2 separate regions of the Homo sapiens genome follow, and region 1 is linked to region 2. A link means that fine-mapping ties the variant in region 2 to the expression of a gene that starts in the linked region. Tissue or cell type: lung. Region 2 holds a variant in brackets; the other region holds the start of a gene. All regions are shown on one strand. Distances are from middle to middle.

Region 1 (8,101 bases), 35 kb after region 2:
AGGCCAGGGGTCCCCAACTCCCAGGCTACAGACGGGTACCAGTCTATGGCCTGTTAGGAATAGGGCCACACAGCAGGAGGTGAGTGGCAGGCAGGTGAGCGAGTGAGAGAAGCTTCATCTGTATTTACAGCCACTCCCCACTGCTCGCATTACCACCTGAGTTCCGCCTCCTGTCAGAGCAGCAGCAGCATTAGATTCTCACAAGAGTGTGAATCCTATTCTGAACTGTGCATGTGAGAGATCTAGGTTGCCCTCCATTTTTTTTTTGTTTGTTTGTTTTTTGGGTTTTTTGGTTTTTTTTTTAGATGAAGTCTCACTCTGTCGCCAGGCTGGAGTGCAGTGGCGCAATCTCGGCTCACTGCAACCTCTGCCTCCTGGGTTCAAGTGATCCTCCTGCCTCAGCCTCCCAAGTAGCTGGGATTACAGGCATGTGCCACCACACCTAGCTAATTTTTGTATTTTTAGTAGAGACAAGGTTTCGCCATGTTGGCCAGGATGGTCTCGATCTCCTGACCTCGTGATCTGCCCGCCTTGGCCTCCCAAAGTGCTGGGATTACAGGCATGAGCCACTGTGCCTGGCCAGTTGCCCGCTTTTTATGAGAATCTAATGCCTGATGATCTGAAGCGTTTCATCCCAAAACCATTCCCCCAACCCTATCCCATCCGTGGAAAAACTGTCTTCCACAAAACCAGTCCCTGGTGCCATAAGGGTTGGGGACCACTGCCATAGGCCCTATGGGCCTTTGTTTTGTGAGGGAGTCTCAACAAACAGAGTTATTTTTTAGGTGAAATGTAAACTAAGCAGTGTTCAGATTGCCTCAAAGCAAATCAGAACTGTGTGTAAAGGGATCAATATCAGGTCCGGATGGTGAAGTGGGCCCAGGGTTTGTCTTCTCAGATGCAATAAAGTTTACATAGATGTAGAATATTGTGTCCTTATCTGAAGCTCCAAACCTGGATTGTAAATAGGGACTGCTTTTCTGTGTCAAAGTGACTTAGCTCCTCCAAGCAAAAGTGAGATGTTTCATTCTTACTTGATGTGATTTCAAACAGCAAAGTTTGTGATCATCTCTGACTTTAGACAACCAAAGTTTCCTACTAAGAAAGCAGTAGACACTCAAAGGATGGGAATTCTGCCACTTTACATCTGCAGTATGTCCAAGAGAAATATTTTTTCCTGGCTGGGTGCAGTGGCTCACGCCTGTAATCCAAGCACTTTGGGAGGCCGAGGCAGGAGGACTGCTTGTGCCCAGGAGTTTGAGACTAGACTGGACAACATAGGGTGATCCCATCTCTCTCTTTAAAAACAAAATTTTTTTTTTTGAGACGGAGTCTCACTCTTGTTGCCCACGCTGGATTGCAGTGGCCTCATCTTGGCTCACTGCAACCTCTGCCTTCTGGATTCATGCGATTCTCCTGCCTCAGCCCACGGAGTAGCTGGAATTACACGCATGAGCCACCACGCCCATCTAATTTTTGTATTTTTAGTAGACACGGGGTTTCACCATGTTGGCCAGGCTGGTCTCGAACTCCTGACCTCAGGTGATCTGCCCGCCTCGGCCTCCCAAAGTGCTGGGATTACAGGCGTGAGCCACCAAGCCTGGCAAAAAAAAAAAAAAAAAAAAAAAAAAAAAAAAATTTAAATTATCCAGGCATGGTGGCGCGTGCCTCTGGTCCCAGCTACTTGGTAGGGTGAGGTGGGAGGATCACTTGAGCCCGGGAGGTCGAGGTTGCAGTGAGCTGTGATCGTTCCACTGCATTCCAGCCTGGGCGACAAAGCGATCTTGTCTCAAAAAAAAAAAAAAAAAAAAGCAAAGAAATGTTTTTTCCTAGTAATTCTTCCACCAACTGGCTTATGTCAGCCAGATAAATAAGGAGACAGATCTTTTACAGTCGAAGCTAATTCTGACTTTCCCAAGTATGACGAAAGAGGTAAGGATGACATTTTTTAAACCTAAGCAACAAGAAGAATGAAGCACGCTACTAAGATAAGACAGACTGGAAGGTTTTGGGGAGACACGATCGCAAGCTCAGTTTCGGATGCTCTGAGTTTCAGATGGCTCAAATGCGTGGGGAGGGCAAGTGGGCATCTGCAGGCTCTCTAACAGCCTGCACCGACTTCACTTCTTACATCCCTTTCACTCTTCGGCTCGCTTCGCTCGCTATCTGTAGTCAATCGTCTACTCCTGTTTCCCACGCCTGCACCTTTGTATGTGCAATGGACACTGCCAGGAAGGCCATCTCCTCATGGTTTAACCCCACTTCCTAACACCCTCAAGCAAGACCAGAAGCCCCGCACAGCAGCACTAATGCTCGGGCCCCACCCCTCTCAGGGTCCCGCCTCCCTCAAGCCCCGCCCCGCGCTGCGCTCACTTGTAGAAGCTCACAGGGCGGTTGTCTGCACCCAGGCGGCCCGCAGTGTTGGAGCAGTTCGGCGCCCTGCAGTACTTGGGCATGGCTATCCAGCCCCCGCTGAGTTTTGCCGGGTCAGCGGCTGCACTTTGGTTCTCGCGGAGCGCCGCCTAACCCCGCCCCACCCGCGCTCGCCGCCTGCCTCACGTGACGTCCGTGGAGTCTCGTCACGTACCGGGGAGAGAGCTGAGAGCGCCTGCCTACTAGGCGCCCCTCCACAGTGCCACAGTCCCGCCCTCGTCACGTGACGAATGGGCCATAGCGAGTACTGTGCACCTGCGCAAAGCCGGCCCTTCGTCACCCCGACTTTCATCACGTGTTGGGGGGAAGGGCGGCGTCACGGCGTTTCTGAGCCTGCGCCAACCAAATCAACTGGCTAGTCAATCTCTTACGGCTCCACCCTACGCCTACATCCGGGCAACCGTTGGGGCGCACATAGTTCCTCTAGGTGGCGGCAAAAACCGAGGTGAGGCGGCCGTGGCCTTAGCCTCGTAAAAATTAAAACCTGTATGTTTCAGCGAATAATGAAAACGCAGTCTGGATGAAAGACCCCATGACGCTTAATCAGGCATCCAGTACACTGGCTGTGGCCCCGCCCCGCCAGGCACTCGCTCCGCCTCTTCGCCCCCATTGGTTCTAAGCGCCGCCCGGCATCCCTGCGATTGGCTAGGCCGGGCCCGTCGCGTCCAATAGGCGGTGGCGCCGGCTTTCCCGCGGCTGTTCGCTGTTCCAGTGGGTCGTGGCGGTGGCGGCAGCGGCGGTTAGGGGATGTAACGGTCGCCCGCCTCCGGCGTGACGATGGCGGCCGTAGGGTCCGGAGGCTATGCGCGGAACGATGCAGGGGAGAAGCTGCCCTCTGTCATGGCGGGAGTTCCGGCGCGGAGGGGCCAGTCCTCCCCGCCCCCCGCCCCACCAATCTGCCTACGGCGGCGGACGCGACTCTCGACGGCCTCCGAGGAGACGGTGCAGAACCGGGTGAGAAGCTGCTCGCCATGTCTACCCCAGTTCCAGGCTTCCTAGGTTTCCCCTAGTCCCGTCCTGAGAACTGTGGCCCCGACATCAGCCCCCGGCCAGTCCCCTCAGGTTGTTCCCTGCCATGCCTCGTCCCCTAACCCCCGCCCCTTTAGCCACGGCCCCTCCCACTTTCTCCTCGCTGCTTTCCCGGCTCCACCCTCAGCGTTGGAGCAATTCGGGGGTTCCTCGCTGGTTCCCACCCGTGGAAATGCATTTTGCTTCTGTAAATCACAGCCTAGTCCTGCTATATTTTAACCCCCGTTCTATCGCCTTTAGACGTCACGATCATAGCTCACTGCAGCCTCACTGCCCTGGCCCCCGCTGAGTCATTAAGGTCCCTTCGAGGGTTCGGTCCAGAGTGTTACCTGCCCCAACTCTTCCTCGCTTCTACCCCGCCTTCTCTCACCTTCTGCGATCTCTATCCTTTTTCCTCACCAAGGTGGGATTCTTAATCCATATTGTCACTCAAAACTATGAGAAAGACGTGAGAAGTTATTTATAAAATCTCTGCAGTGCTGCCTGGGGAGGAGGGCGTACAGAACAGTTCCCTAAATCCTGAGACAGAAAAATGGAAAGAAATGATTTCACAGTAGGTAGAAGGAATTCCATTAGCACAGCGGCAATTAAAAAAATTGTTTTCCAGCTGTGTAGGCACAAAATCTGTTTTTATAAAATGGAGATGATAAGAACCATACTACTGGTAGGGCGCGGTAGCTCACGTCTGTAATCCCAGCACTTTGGGAGGCCAAGGTGGGCTGTTCACCTGAGATCAGTTCAAGACCAGCCTGGCCAACATGGTGAAACCCGTCTCTACAAAAAGTAGAAAAATTAGCCCGGCATGCTAGCGCGCGCCTGTAATCCCAGCTACTCAGGAGGCTGAGGCGGGAGAAATCGCTTGAACCTGGGAGGCGGAGGTTGCAGTGAGCTGAGGTCATGCCACTGCACTCCAGCCTGGGCGACAGAGTGAGACTCTGTCTCAAAATAAATAAATAAATAAATTATACTATTGCATTGGAGGGAAATGAAATTTTAATTGTGATCTTCTTGGCACGGAGTCCAGATAAAGGGAGGATACCTGGTAGCTGCTGGTGGAGCTTGTTCCTGCCCCATGACTTTCTCCTGCACTGTGATTATACCGCCCACTCCTGGCTACAGGGCTCTGGCTGTACCTCCCATGTGCTCTCTGTCACCAAGGTTCAGTCACACTGGCCTGCTTTTGGTTTTCCTGAGGCTCCATATTCTTTTCTGCCTCCTGGCCTTTGTGATTGGTGAGTCCTCAGCCTGGGCTTTTTGCTGCAATCTGCCTGTCTGGCTCCTTCCCATCCTTCAAGTCTCAGCCTGAATGTCGCTATCTTGAAAGGCCTTCTCGAACCCCATTCTAAAGCAAACAGCCACCTTCATCTGTCACCCAGCACCCTATACTTCATAGCCTTTATCTTATATGTTCCTGAAAGTGCCCTTTGAGCTATTAAACTACATATAACAATAGCAAATTCAGAGAGGCGTTATAGCAAAGTGGCTAAGAGCACAGACTGCTGCTGATGGTATGGTTGGACCCAGGCAGCCTGAGCTTAAACTTTAGTCCTGTTCTTCCTGGCAGGTTATGAACTTCGCTTTTTCTTTTCTTTTTTTTTTTTTTTGAGATGGGGTCTTACTCTGTCATCCAGGCTGTAGTGCACTGGGTTGATCTCGGCTCACTGCAGTCTCAGCCTCCCTGGGCTCAGGTGATCTTCCTGCCTCAAGCCTCCTGAGTAGCTGGGACTGCAGGCGCATGCCACCATACCTGACTAATTTTTTTGTGTTTTCTGGTAGAGACAGGGTCTCGCCGTGTTGGCCAGGCTGGTCTTGAATTACTGAGCTCAAGCGATCTGCCTGCCTCGGCCTCCCAAAGTGCTAGGATTACAGGCGTGAGCTACTGTGCCCCGCCAAGTTATGAACTTATCTGTGCCTCAGTTTTCTTATCTGTAAAATGAGAATAATGATGTAGAAATCTCTCATAGGGTATTTGTGAGGATTCAATGAGGTTACATATCCTAGGCACTTAGAACAACACTGGCATATGGCAAGTACTCTATTCATGTTAGCTAATACTGATATTATGACTGTGTATTTGGGGTAATATTTATTTATTTTTTTTGTTTGGCAGCACAGAGTTGATCTGTCTTGCAAAGACCTAGTCTAAAAGTGACCATTCATACCAGGGCCCAGTAATGCTGATCGACAGATAAGACAACATGAGTGCCATGGCTTGGTTGTTTGTGTTGGAATCCTGGCACTACCCCTTCCTGGATGGGTAACCCCTCTTGGCCTCTGTTTCCTCAACTGTTTTGTTCCTTTTTTTTTTTGAGACAGAGTCTCACTCTGTCGCCCAGGATGGAGTGCAATGGTGCCATCTCAGCTCACTGCAACCTCCGCCTCCTGGGTTCAAGCGATTTTACTGCCTCAGCCTCCTGAGTGCCTGGGATTATAGGCATGGGCCACCACACCTGACTAATTTTTTTGTATTTTTAGTAGAGACAGGGTTTCGCCATCTTGGCCAGGATGGTCTCAAACTCTTGACTGAGCCACCACACCCAGCCTTGTTTAAATTTTAAATATTACTGTTCATGTGGTTTTTTACTCGTTGAAACCGCTCAAATTTCTGGACTGTGAATCTGATGTGGGGAAACTGTCTACCTTTGGTCACTACTGTGTCTCTCCTGTACAGCCCAAAGTGCTAGCTTTGGAGCCAGACTGCCTGGGTTTGTATATCAACATTGCCACTTGCAGATGTAGGATCTTGGGCCTCAGACTTCTTACCTGTAAAACAGGGGTGATAATAGAGCCTTCTTCGTGGCTTGTTGGGAGGATTCAAGTCTTTTATACATATAAAAGTACTAAGAGGCCGGGCACAGTGGCTCATGCCTGTAATCCTAGCACTTTGGGAGGCCGAGGCGGGTGTATCACCTGAGGTCAGGAGTTCGAGGCCAGCCTGGCCAACATGGTGAAACCCCATCTCTACTAAAAATACAAAAATTAGCCGGACATGGTGGCATGTGCCTGTAATCCTAGCTACTCAGGAGGCTGAGGCAGGAGAATTGCTTGAACCTGGAAGGCGGAGGTTGCAATGAGCCAAGATCTCACCACTGACTCCAGCCTGGGTGACAGAGCAAGACTCCATCTCAAAAACAAACAAAAAAAAGTACTTAGAAACTTATTCACAGGTCACCTTCTCACCGCGGCATTCGCCCCCTTCCCCTGTGCTCCTAACCTCCTTATCTGCTTTCTTCTCTCTTGCACCCATCATTACTTGGCATCTATTTCACATATTTGTTCTGCTCCTTTTCTATGTTCTACATACCCATCACCAGTAGAATGTGAGCCCCCCGAGGGCAGGGATTTGTCTCTTCCTCACCACTCTGTGCTTTTCACCTAGCGTTGTATTTGTCAAAGGAATGTTGAGAGAACAAGTGTTAGCTGCTGGTGGATGGCGTGGCCACAGAAGCTCAGTGTGGGTGTTGAATGTAGCAGGACCTGAATGGGTGGCCAAGGCGGCTGCACCATGTGGTGCTGGCTAGGGTGGGTGCCTCTGACTTGGGCTTTTTCTTTGCAGGTGTCACTCGAGAAGGTGCTTGGCATCACAGCCCAGAACAGCAGTGGCCTAACCTGTGACCCCGGCACAGGCCATGTGGCCTACCTGGCAGGGTAAGCAGATAAGGGCCTCGACGTCTAATCATTGCTAGGGAATTTGGAGCTTGGAACCTGAAGCCATCCGTAAATCGCTCTGAGCCTCATATTTTTCACCTGTAGAATGTGGAGAATGGGGCCTGCCTCTGAGAGCTGTGGAGAGGATTCCATAGCCCCCTCTCTGTCTAGAACAGTTCCTGGCATGTAGTGAGTGCAATGAAAGCCTTTATTATGACTACAGGGGGGAGGTGACAGCGATTCTGGGAAAGACAGGTGATTAAAGTCCACGCTGTGGTGTCAGGTAACCTGGATTTGTGTCCCAGCTCTGCCATGTATGCTGCTCTCTGAGCCTCTTCCTCTGCCTCTGTAAAACAGAGCTGGTGACCCCCTCTGCTTGCATAGTTGAGAAGACTGAAGAAGATGCTACAGCTGTTCATTCCATAAATACTCATGTAGCCTGGCACTGTGCTAAGGACGTCCCCTCTCTGGGTTTGTTTCCTTATCTATAAATGGGCCTAAATAGTCGTGACCTGACCTGGCAGTTGTGAGGATTTAAAACAATTACATCCCTCTTTCTCTCTTTTTGTTTTGTTTTGCTTTTTTGAGACAGAGTCTGGCTGTGTTGCCCAGGCTAGAATGCAATAGTGTGAATAACAGCTCACTACAGCCCCAACCTCCTGTGCTCAAGCGATCCTCCCATCTTCACCTCCCATGTAGCTGGGACTACAGGCACATGCCACCACAGCCAGCTAATTTTTTTTAGTGGAGATGAGATCTCACTCTGTCGCCCAGGCTGGTCTAAAACTCCTGAGCTCAAGTGATCCCTCCTGCCCCATACTCCCAAAGTGCTGGGATTATAGCCAGCTTAAGGTCTTAATTAGCCTAGGGCCTGACAGACATTACCTCAGAGGAAGTGTTGGTTTCTATTTAAGAACATAGCAATGTTAAAGTGCCCTAGAATTCTCAGCGTAAACACCTGGAGGAGGGGGAGGAGGAGGAGACCAGAGAG
Region 2 (8,101 bases):
GCCTTATGGATCCCTCTCCCTGAATGTCACATAGGAGAGGGGACAGGGGTTGGCCACACACCTGGAAATGGAGTTCTCTGATGCAATGTCCTTTGGGGTCCGGACTGTGGTGAAGGTGCGTTTGGGCTGCGTCACTGAAGAGGAGGGCAGGATGTCAAGTGAGGGGATGACAGACCACCTGTGTCCTCAATACCCATCCAGACCCCTTCTCATTAATACCTCCCCATGTCTCCAGTCCCCACCTGGATCCTACATTCCCAATACCCATCTGGGCCTCTTGTCCATAATTCCCACCATGTCCCCCAGTGACTATCCCTGTCCCCAGTATCTGCTCAACCTCATGTCCCCGAAGAGCCTTGTTGCTAATTTCCTCATATCCTCTAGCACCTATCTTTTTGTGGACCTTGTCTCATCATTTTCCTGGACCCTGTGTCCCCAATTAAATACCAGAGACTGTCACCAGTATATACCTGAGAACCCATGACCCTTCCTCCCATCCCCAAACGTACACTCCTCCCAACATATCATCCCCTAACTCACTTGTCACTTGATGCACTTTTTTGGCTCCAACGCTGTCCCCGGGGGAATCAGTGGATCCGCCAATCCTGAGGAGACACGGGGAGGGGGAGAAGTCAGAGCCACAAAAGGCCAGGGTCTGACTGAGAGCTGGGCCCCAGGGATCTATGAGGAAAGGGCTGGGGGCTCGGGGGTGTCCACACTGTCCTGCTGGTCTGGGAGGAGGAGGCCATCTGAGGGGGGATCAGGGCTCCAGGTGGTGCCCTGGGTTTGGGCTGGAAGTTTGGGCTCACCTCTGAATACGGGATGCTGGTGCGAAGACCCCATGCCTCGGGGGGCAAGTGAAGTACCGGACACCGAAGACAGAGCCATCATGCTTGCCTGTGGGCTGGTCCAGCTCAATGCCATACCAGTAACCTGCAGCACGAGGGTGTCAGGATTTCTCAAGGCCCTGCCTGCCTCCCGGCCCAGAGTCCCCATCCTCACCTGGGGCAAAGTCTGTCTTCCCGTAGAAGCGCACGATCCCCTGCTTCTGGCCCGCGACAAGGACCTGGTCTCCAACCTCAGCCTTGGCCCCGTCACGCTGCTGCAAGCTGCCCAGAGATGGGGATGATGGGGTCTTCTTCTTGCCTAAGGGTAGAAGGTGTAGGAGGTGGGTAGTGGGGCTGAGGCCAGCTTTGGGAACCTCGTGCCACCTGGAAAACCCCAAGGTAGAAAACCCTGTTCTTCGTTTGAAGTGAAACTGAATCCCAGATGCCAGAGAATTAGGAAGGGGCTTTAGGCCTGAAGGGAAACTGAGTCAGAGAACCTGAAGAACCCCAAAATCCTTTCTCAAAGCTGAGGATATGTTGGATAAGGAAAAGCTGAGTCAGAAGTCAGGAACCCAGAAACTGTCCTTTTAAAATGAAGGGAAAATTGGGTCCGAGAGTAAATCAGGCCATGTGCAGTGGCGCAGGCCTGTAATCCCAACATTTTGAGAGGCCGAGGCGGGCAGATCACTTGAGGTCAGGAGTTTGAGACCAGCCTGGCCAACATGGCAAAACCCTGTCTCTACAGAAAAAAATACAAACATTAGCCAGATGTGGTGGTGGGCACCTGTAATCCCAGCTACTCGGGAGGCTGAGGCACGAGAATTGCTTGAACCCGGGAGGCGGAGGTTGCGGTGAGCCAAGATCGTGCCACCACGCTCCAGCCTGGGCAACAAGGCGAGACTCTTGACTCAAAAAAAAAAAAAAAAAAAAGTAGATCAAATGACAAAAGACAGGATCTCCAAGGATTCTTCCCTAAAACTGGGGGAGACCTTTGGGTCTGAGAGGAAACTAAGTCACAGAGGGCAGGGAACCCACAGGTCCTTCTAAGAACTAGGGGGTGCCAGTACTGAGCCAAAGGGGAAACTGAGTCACAGAAGTCAGGAACTCAGAGCTTGTCTTCCAAAACTGGAGTTTGGGCCTGAGGAGAAACTGAGTCACAGAAGCTGAGCTACCCACACAACATCCCCAAACTGGCTCTTCCCACCACAGGGATCCCCTCTCTGACCTTTGTGTTCCCTGCGGCCTTTGCCGGTGACACGGGAGAAGTCCATCCGGGGGGTCCGGGGTGTGGAGGTGACAGAGGAGGGGGGTGCGTCCACTGCCTTGGAGATCTTGGACACGGAGGCAAAGAGACCTAGGGGTACAGAATCCGAGCCTGGTGTTGTCCAAGCCTCTGCCCTCGGCCCCCATCCTCCATCCCCTATTTCCCAGTCAGCAGCATCAGAACTGCCGAGTGGACACCCAGCCACACCCCTCTTGGGCCCGAGGTCGGACTAACCCTGCTTGGGAGGGCAGATGAAGTACCGAACGCCCCCAACGCTGCCATCGTTCTTGCCCTCAGGTTCGTCCAGCTCCACGCCCACCCACTGGCCGCTGGCAAACTCCGTGGTCCCACAGAACCGCAGTGTGCCCGTCTGGGGAGAGAAGGGAGGCGATGGCTAAGGAAGGAATGCTGGGAGGCCAACGTGGAGTGCCCACACACGGGCAGCAAGGTGGGTTGCATGAGGCCGCCCTGGGCCCAAACCCCAGGTCACACATCACCATTTGCTGGCTACATGACTTAACCTCTGTGTGCCTCAACTTCCTTTGCTGTGAAATGGGAACAGAAATTATACTCACCTTATAGGATTGTTAAAGAGTTGCCCTGTCTCATATAGTGAATAGTGACTAGCCACATAGGACAATGTAAATTTATTTATTTATTTATTTTATTTATTTTTTTTTTTTTCGAGACAGCGTCTCACTCTGTTGCCAGGCTCGAGTGCAGTGGCACGATCTCGGCTCACTGCAAATTCCACTTCCTGGGTTCAAGCAATTCTCCCATCTCAGCCTCCCAAGTAGCTGGGACTACAGGTGCATGCCACCACGCCTGGCTAATTTTTGTATTTTTAGTAGAGACGGGGCTTCGCCATGTTGGCCAGGCTGGTCTCGAATTCCTGACCTCAGGTGATCCACCCGCCTCGGCCTCCCAAAGTGCTGGGATCACAGGCATGAGCCACCATGCCTGGCCAACAATTTAAATTTAAACTAAGGCCGGGTGTGGTGGCTCATGCCTATAATCCCAAC[A/G]CTTTGGGATGCCAAGGCTGGAGGATCACTTGAGGCCAGGAGTTTCAGACCAGCCTGGGTGAAAATGGCGAGACCCTCTAATCTTAATCTGTTCCAAAAAACAAAGACAGCAAGACCCTATTCTCTATAAAAGAAAGAAAAAAGGTAACCAGGTGCAGTAGCTCAAGCCTGTTGTCCCAGTTACTTGGGAGGCTGAGGTGGGAGGATCGCTTGAGCCCAGGAGTTCAAGGGTGCAGTGAGCTATGATGGTGCCACTGCACTCCAGCCTGGGCAACAAGCAAGACCCTGTCTCAAAAATAAATAAATACATACCTTAGAAAGAAGACTCAGATGATTTTTAAATTTAAAAATAAATAAATTTAGTCCGGGCGCGGTGGCTCACACCTATAATCCTAGCACTCTGGGAGGCCGAGGTGGGAGGATCACCTGAGGTCAGGAGTTCAAGACCAGCCTGGCCAACATGGTGAAACCCCCATCTCTACTAAAAATACAAAAATTAACCAGGCATGATGGTGCACGCCTGTAATCCCAGCTACTCGGGAGGCTGAGGCAGGAGAATTGCTTGAACCCAGGAGGGTTGCAGTGAGCCCAGATAGCACCACTGCACTCCAGCCTGAGCAACAGAGCAAGACTCTGTCTCAAGAAAAAATATAAATAAATAAAAATACAAATCAATACATTTAAACTAAATTAAAAATGCATTTCCCCAGTCACACTAGCCATATTTCAAGTGCTCAATTGTCACATGTAGCTTGTAGCTACTTTACTGGACAGCACAGACAGAATATTTCCACCATTACAGAAAGCTCTGTTGGACAGGGCTGTTATAGAGAAATTAAAGCCCTCAGAACAGGGCTTGGTATTAAGTAAAGGATCAGCAAGTATTCGTTATTGAAATTTTTTTTCTATTTTAGAGACAGGGTCTCACTCTGTGGCCCAGGCTGGAGTGCAGTGGTGCAATCATAGCTCAGTGTAACCTTGAACTCCTGGGTTCAAGCAATCTTCCCTCCTCAGTCTCCCGAGTAGCTGGGACTACAGGTGAACGCCACCAAAGCCTGGCTAATTAAAACAACAACAACAACAACAAACTTTTGTTAAAAATAGAAATGGAGTATCCCTATGTTGCCCAGGTTAGTTTCAAACTCCTGGCCTCAAGCGATCCTCCCCATCTTGGCCTCCCAAAGTGCTGGGATTACAGGTGTGAAGCCACTGTGCTCAGCCTGTTAGCTATTATCATGCTGTAACTTTGGTCAGGGGACTTATTGAGCCTCAGTTTCATCTGTAAAATAGAGATAGTAAGCCACCTCATGGAGTGATCATCTGGCGGAAACTTTTTTTTTTTTTAGACAGGGTCTCACTTTGTTGCCCATGCCAGGGGTGCAGTGGCACGACCCTGGCACAGTGCAGCCTCAAACTCCTGGGCACAAGTGATCCTCTCACTTCAGCCTCCCAAGTAGCTAGGACTACAGGTGTGCGCCACCATGCCTGATTAATTTTTTCATTATTAGTAGAGATGAGGTCTCACCATGTTGATTGCCCAGGCTGGTCTTGAACTCCTGGGCTCAAGCGATCCTCTCACTTCAGCCTCCCAAGTAGCTAGGACTATAGGTGTGTGCCACCATGCCTGGTTAATTTTTTCATTTTTAGTAGAGATGAGGTCTCACTATGTTGCCCAGGCTGGTCTCGAATTCCTGGGCTCAAGCGATCCTTCTGCCTCAGCCTCCCAAAGTGCTGGGATTACAGGCATGAGCCACCACATTTGGCGGAAACATTTTTAACACATGTAAACTTGCTTAGCTGCAGTGAGACTTTAGTGAGTGTGGTTATTATCATTATGGGAGGCTCATTCACCTCTCCATGCCTCAGTTCCTGGTCCATATAATAGGCTAATTAATTAGTGCTGATCTTTTTTTATTTTTATTTATTTATTTTTTTTTGGAGACGGAGTCTCACACTTTGGCCCAGGCTGGAGTGCAGTGGCATGATCTTGGCTCACTGCAAGCTCCGCCTCCTGGGTTCATGCCATTCTCCTGCCTCAGCCTCCTGAGTAGCTGGGACTACAGGCACCTGCCACCATGCCTGGCTAATTTTTTGTATTTTTTTTGTAGAGACGAGGTTTCACCGGGTTAGCCAGGATGGTCTCGATCTCCTGACCTCGTGATCCGCCCACCTCTGCCTCCCAAAGTGCTGGGATTACAGGCGTGAGGCACCGCGCCCCGACAATTAGTGCTGATCTTAAGAGTGTTGGTGGAGGGACTAGAACAGTGCCTGGCACACACAAAGAGCATTTAGTATGCGCTGGACTCTGTTCTAATGGCCTTACGCATTTTAATTAATTTAAACCTCAACCAGCCCCCTAAGGTGGTTACTATTATTATCTCCATTTACGGATGAAGACATTGACACCCAAAGAGGCAGAATCACTGGCTCCAGGTCCACAGGTGGGAAGTTGCAAAGCTGAGATTTACCTGGGCAAGTCCCTGAGCCTGAGTTCATGACGCTGTGCTATGCTGCTTCTCTAAGGGGCAGTGATTAGTATTCCGTGTCTTCAGATAAAGGTTTTCACCTGTTGGAGCCTCTTATAGTCTGGCTTGTAAAATGGGAAGAGTCAACCCAACCTTCCTTCTGAATTGTGCAATGGATATGATTAGATCGTGCACAGCAGAATGCTTTCTGGATGGGGCCGGGCGCAGTGGCTTATGCCTGTAATCCCAGCACTTTGGGAGCCAAGGCGGGCGAATCGCTTGAGGGCAGGAGTTTGAGACCAGCCTGGCCAATATGGTGAAACCCGTTGCTACTAAAAATAAAAATAAAAGGCCAGGCGCGGTGGCTCACGCCTGTAATCCCAGCACTTTGGGAGGCTGAGGCGGGCGGATCACGAGGTCAGGAGATCAAGACCATCCTGGCTAACACAGTGACACCCTCTCTCTACTAAAAATACAAATAATTAGCCAGGCATGGTGGTGGGCACCTGTAGTCCCAGCTACTCGGGAGGCTGAGGCAGGAGAATGGCATGAACCCAGGAGGCAGAGCTTGCAGTGAGCTGAGATCGCGCCACCGCACTCCAGCCTAGGCGACAGAGCAAGACTCCATCTCAAAATAATAATAATAATAATCATAATAATAAAAATAAACCCAGGCTTGTTGGCACACACTTGTAATCCCAGCTACGTGGGAGGCTAAGACATGAGAATAGCTTGAATCTGGGAGGTGGAGGTTGCTGTGAGCCAAGATCGTGCCACTGCACTCTGGCCTGGGTGACAGCAAGACCCTGTCTCAAAAACACAAAAACAAAATTCAAACTCCTTCCAGTAGCCTACAGGTCTGCTGTGACCCAGCCTTGCTGACCTCTCCACCTCACCGCCCTTCCCATAACTCCCCTCGTCAACACTGCCCCTTCCTGCCTCTGGGTCTCCATACCTACTGCATCCTCTGCTTCCTTATCTTTGCAAAGGAAGTTCTTTCCTATCTCAGTTTGGACATCACCTCCTCAGAGAAGCCTTCTCAGAACACCCCAGCTAAAACCACTCCAGCATTCAGCCAGGGACAATTTACTAAATCCAAACATGTAATGGTGTTGACAGCCCTTGTTGCTACCAGAAATTACCTTTTTTTTTTTTTTTCAATAGAGGCAGGATCTCACTATGTTGCCCAGGCTGGTCTCTAACAACTCCTGACCTCAAGTGATCCTCCCACCTCGGCCTCCCAAAATGCCGGGATTAGAGGTGTGAACTACCGTGCCCAGCCCAGAAATCATCTCAACCATAGGTTTACTTTCTTGACTGTCTCCCCTTCATTACAAGTGGAGCCCCATGACAGCAGGGCGGGGGCAGACACAGCCCTCCCTCCCTAAGGACAGACTGGGTCCCGTATGGAGCCCAAGGGACACCGGGAAATGAGTGAAATTGGAGTCCCTGGATAAATGAAGATTCTCTCTGCCCTCTCAGCTGTGATACCCGCTCCCCCAAGCTGAGACTCCTTTCTCCCTTTCTTTCCCTGGCTTGCTCCTCCACATCTGCAATTTGGGTACATTCCCCATCACACCCCAATCACTCTGGCCTGGACTTGCCTAGCCAGACTTGTCTCTGAGAGCAGAGGGGCCTGATCGAGGACCACAAGACCCGGGGGGAGCCACAGGTGCACAGAGCTGCGCAGATCACTCTGCTCACCCCTCCCCATGGCAGCCATGACCACTCTCGGCCGTCACTGTCAGATGACGGGTTGTTTCCCACCCTGGATGGAGAGCTCAGCACAGGGTGAGGCTCAAAGGAGACACCCACGGAACAACTGAGATAAAATCAAGTACTGGGTGGATAGTTAGGGCGGCAAGTAGACAAAGGGCAGGGACTGCACTCTGCCCGAGGACGCAGCTCCAAGGGATTAAGGGGCTGAGTCCCACCCCCACCCACCATGCAAACACACATCCCAGCCCCTGACCTTCTGGCCATCCAGCAGCACGCGGTCTCCCAGGCGCAAGCCCAGTGCGCTAAGCATGAGATTGCCTGGGACGTTGTCATAGTTGGGTAGCGTGACCTTGGGGAGGGCGCAAGATAGTGGCACTGCCTCTTCCAGAAGCGTCCGCAGCTCCTTGGCCACCAGTGCCGCCTCTGCCTTGTCCAGGGACATGTCCATAGGATCTGGGACCACCTCCGCCGGCACCTGTCCTTTTCGATTCTGGGGGCCAATGGGAAAAGAAGGCAGGGACTCAGTGGCACAGGTCACACCCCCATGGAGGCCCTGCCCCTAGAGACCACCAGTCTGGGTGATGCAGGGGTAAGACTAGGTCATATCCTGGGCCAACCTGGGAATAAGAAGGGTCAGGGCAAGGCGGGGTAAGGTGGCTCACGCCTGTAATCCCAGTACGTTGTGAGGCCGAGGCAGGCAGATGCTTGAGGTCAGGAGTTCAAGACCAGCCTGGCCAACATGGTGAAACCTCGTCTGTACTAAAAATACAAAAATTAGCCGGGTGTGGTGGCGTGTGCCTGTAA

The links. PIP is the estimated chance that this variant, and not a neighbour inherited with it, causes the effect.
Region 1: it holds the start of WDR62, and the variant in region 2 is fine-mapped to the expression of WDR62 in lung (TOPMed, PIP 0.97).

The regions. Positions count from the first base shown.
Region 1 is chr19:36,051,762-36,059,862 of GRCh38, forward strand. WDR62 (WD repeat domain 62) reads left to right here and starts at 3,136. Exons shown (of 32, transcript NM_001083961.2): 1 at 3,136-3,387; 2 at 7,019-7,110. The coding sequence starts at 3,211. THAP8 (THAP domain containing 8) reads right to left here and starts at 2,524. Exons shown (of 4, transcript NM_152658.3): 1 at 2,374-2,524. The coding sequence starts at 2,456.
Region 2 is chr19:36,016,846-36,024,946 of GRCh38, forward strand. CLIP3 (CAP-Gly domain containing linker protein 3) reads right to left here. Exons shown (of 14, transcript NM_015526.3): 7 at 7,551-7,787; 8 at 2,326-2,461; 9 at 2,053-2,181; 10 at 1,003-1,146; 11 at 810-933; 12 at 541-605; 13 at 62-134. It overlaps LOC101927572 (a long non-coding RNA gene), which reads left to right. Exons shown (of 4, transcript NR_170988.1): 2 at 1-115; 3 at 2,389-2,539. Among named protein-coding and RNA genes, the nearest start is that of ALKBH6, 6.7 kb to the left of the region's middle. The variant A/G (reference allele first, on the strand shown) is at 3,114.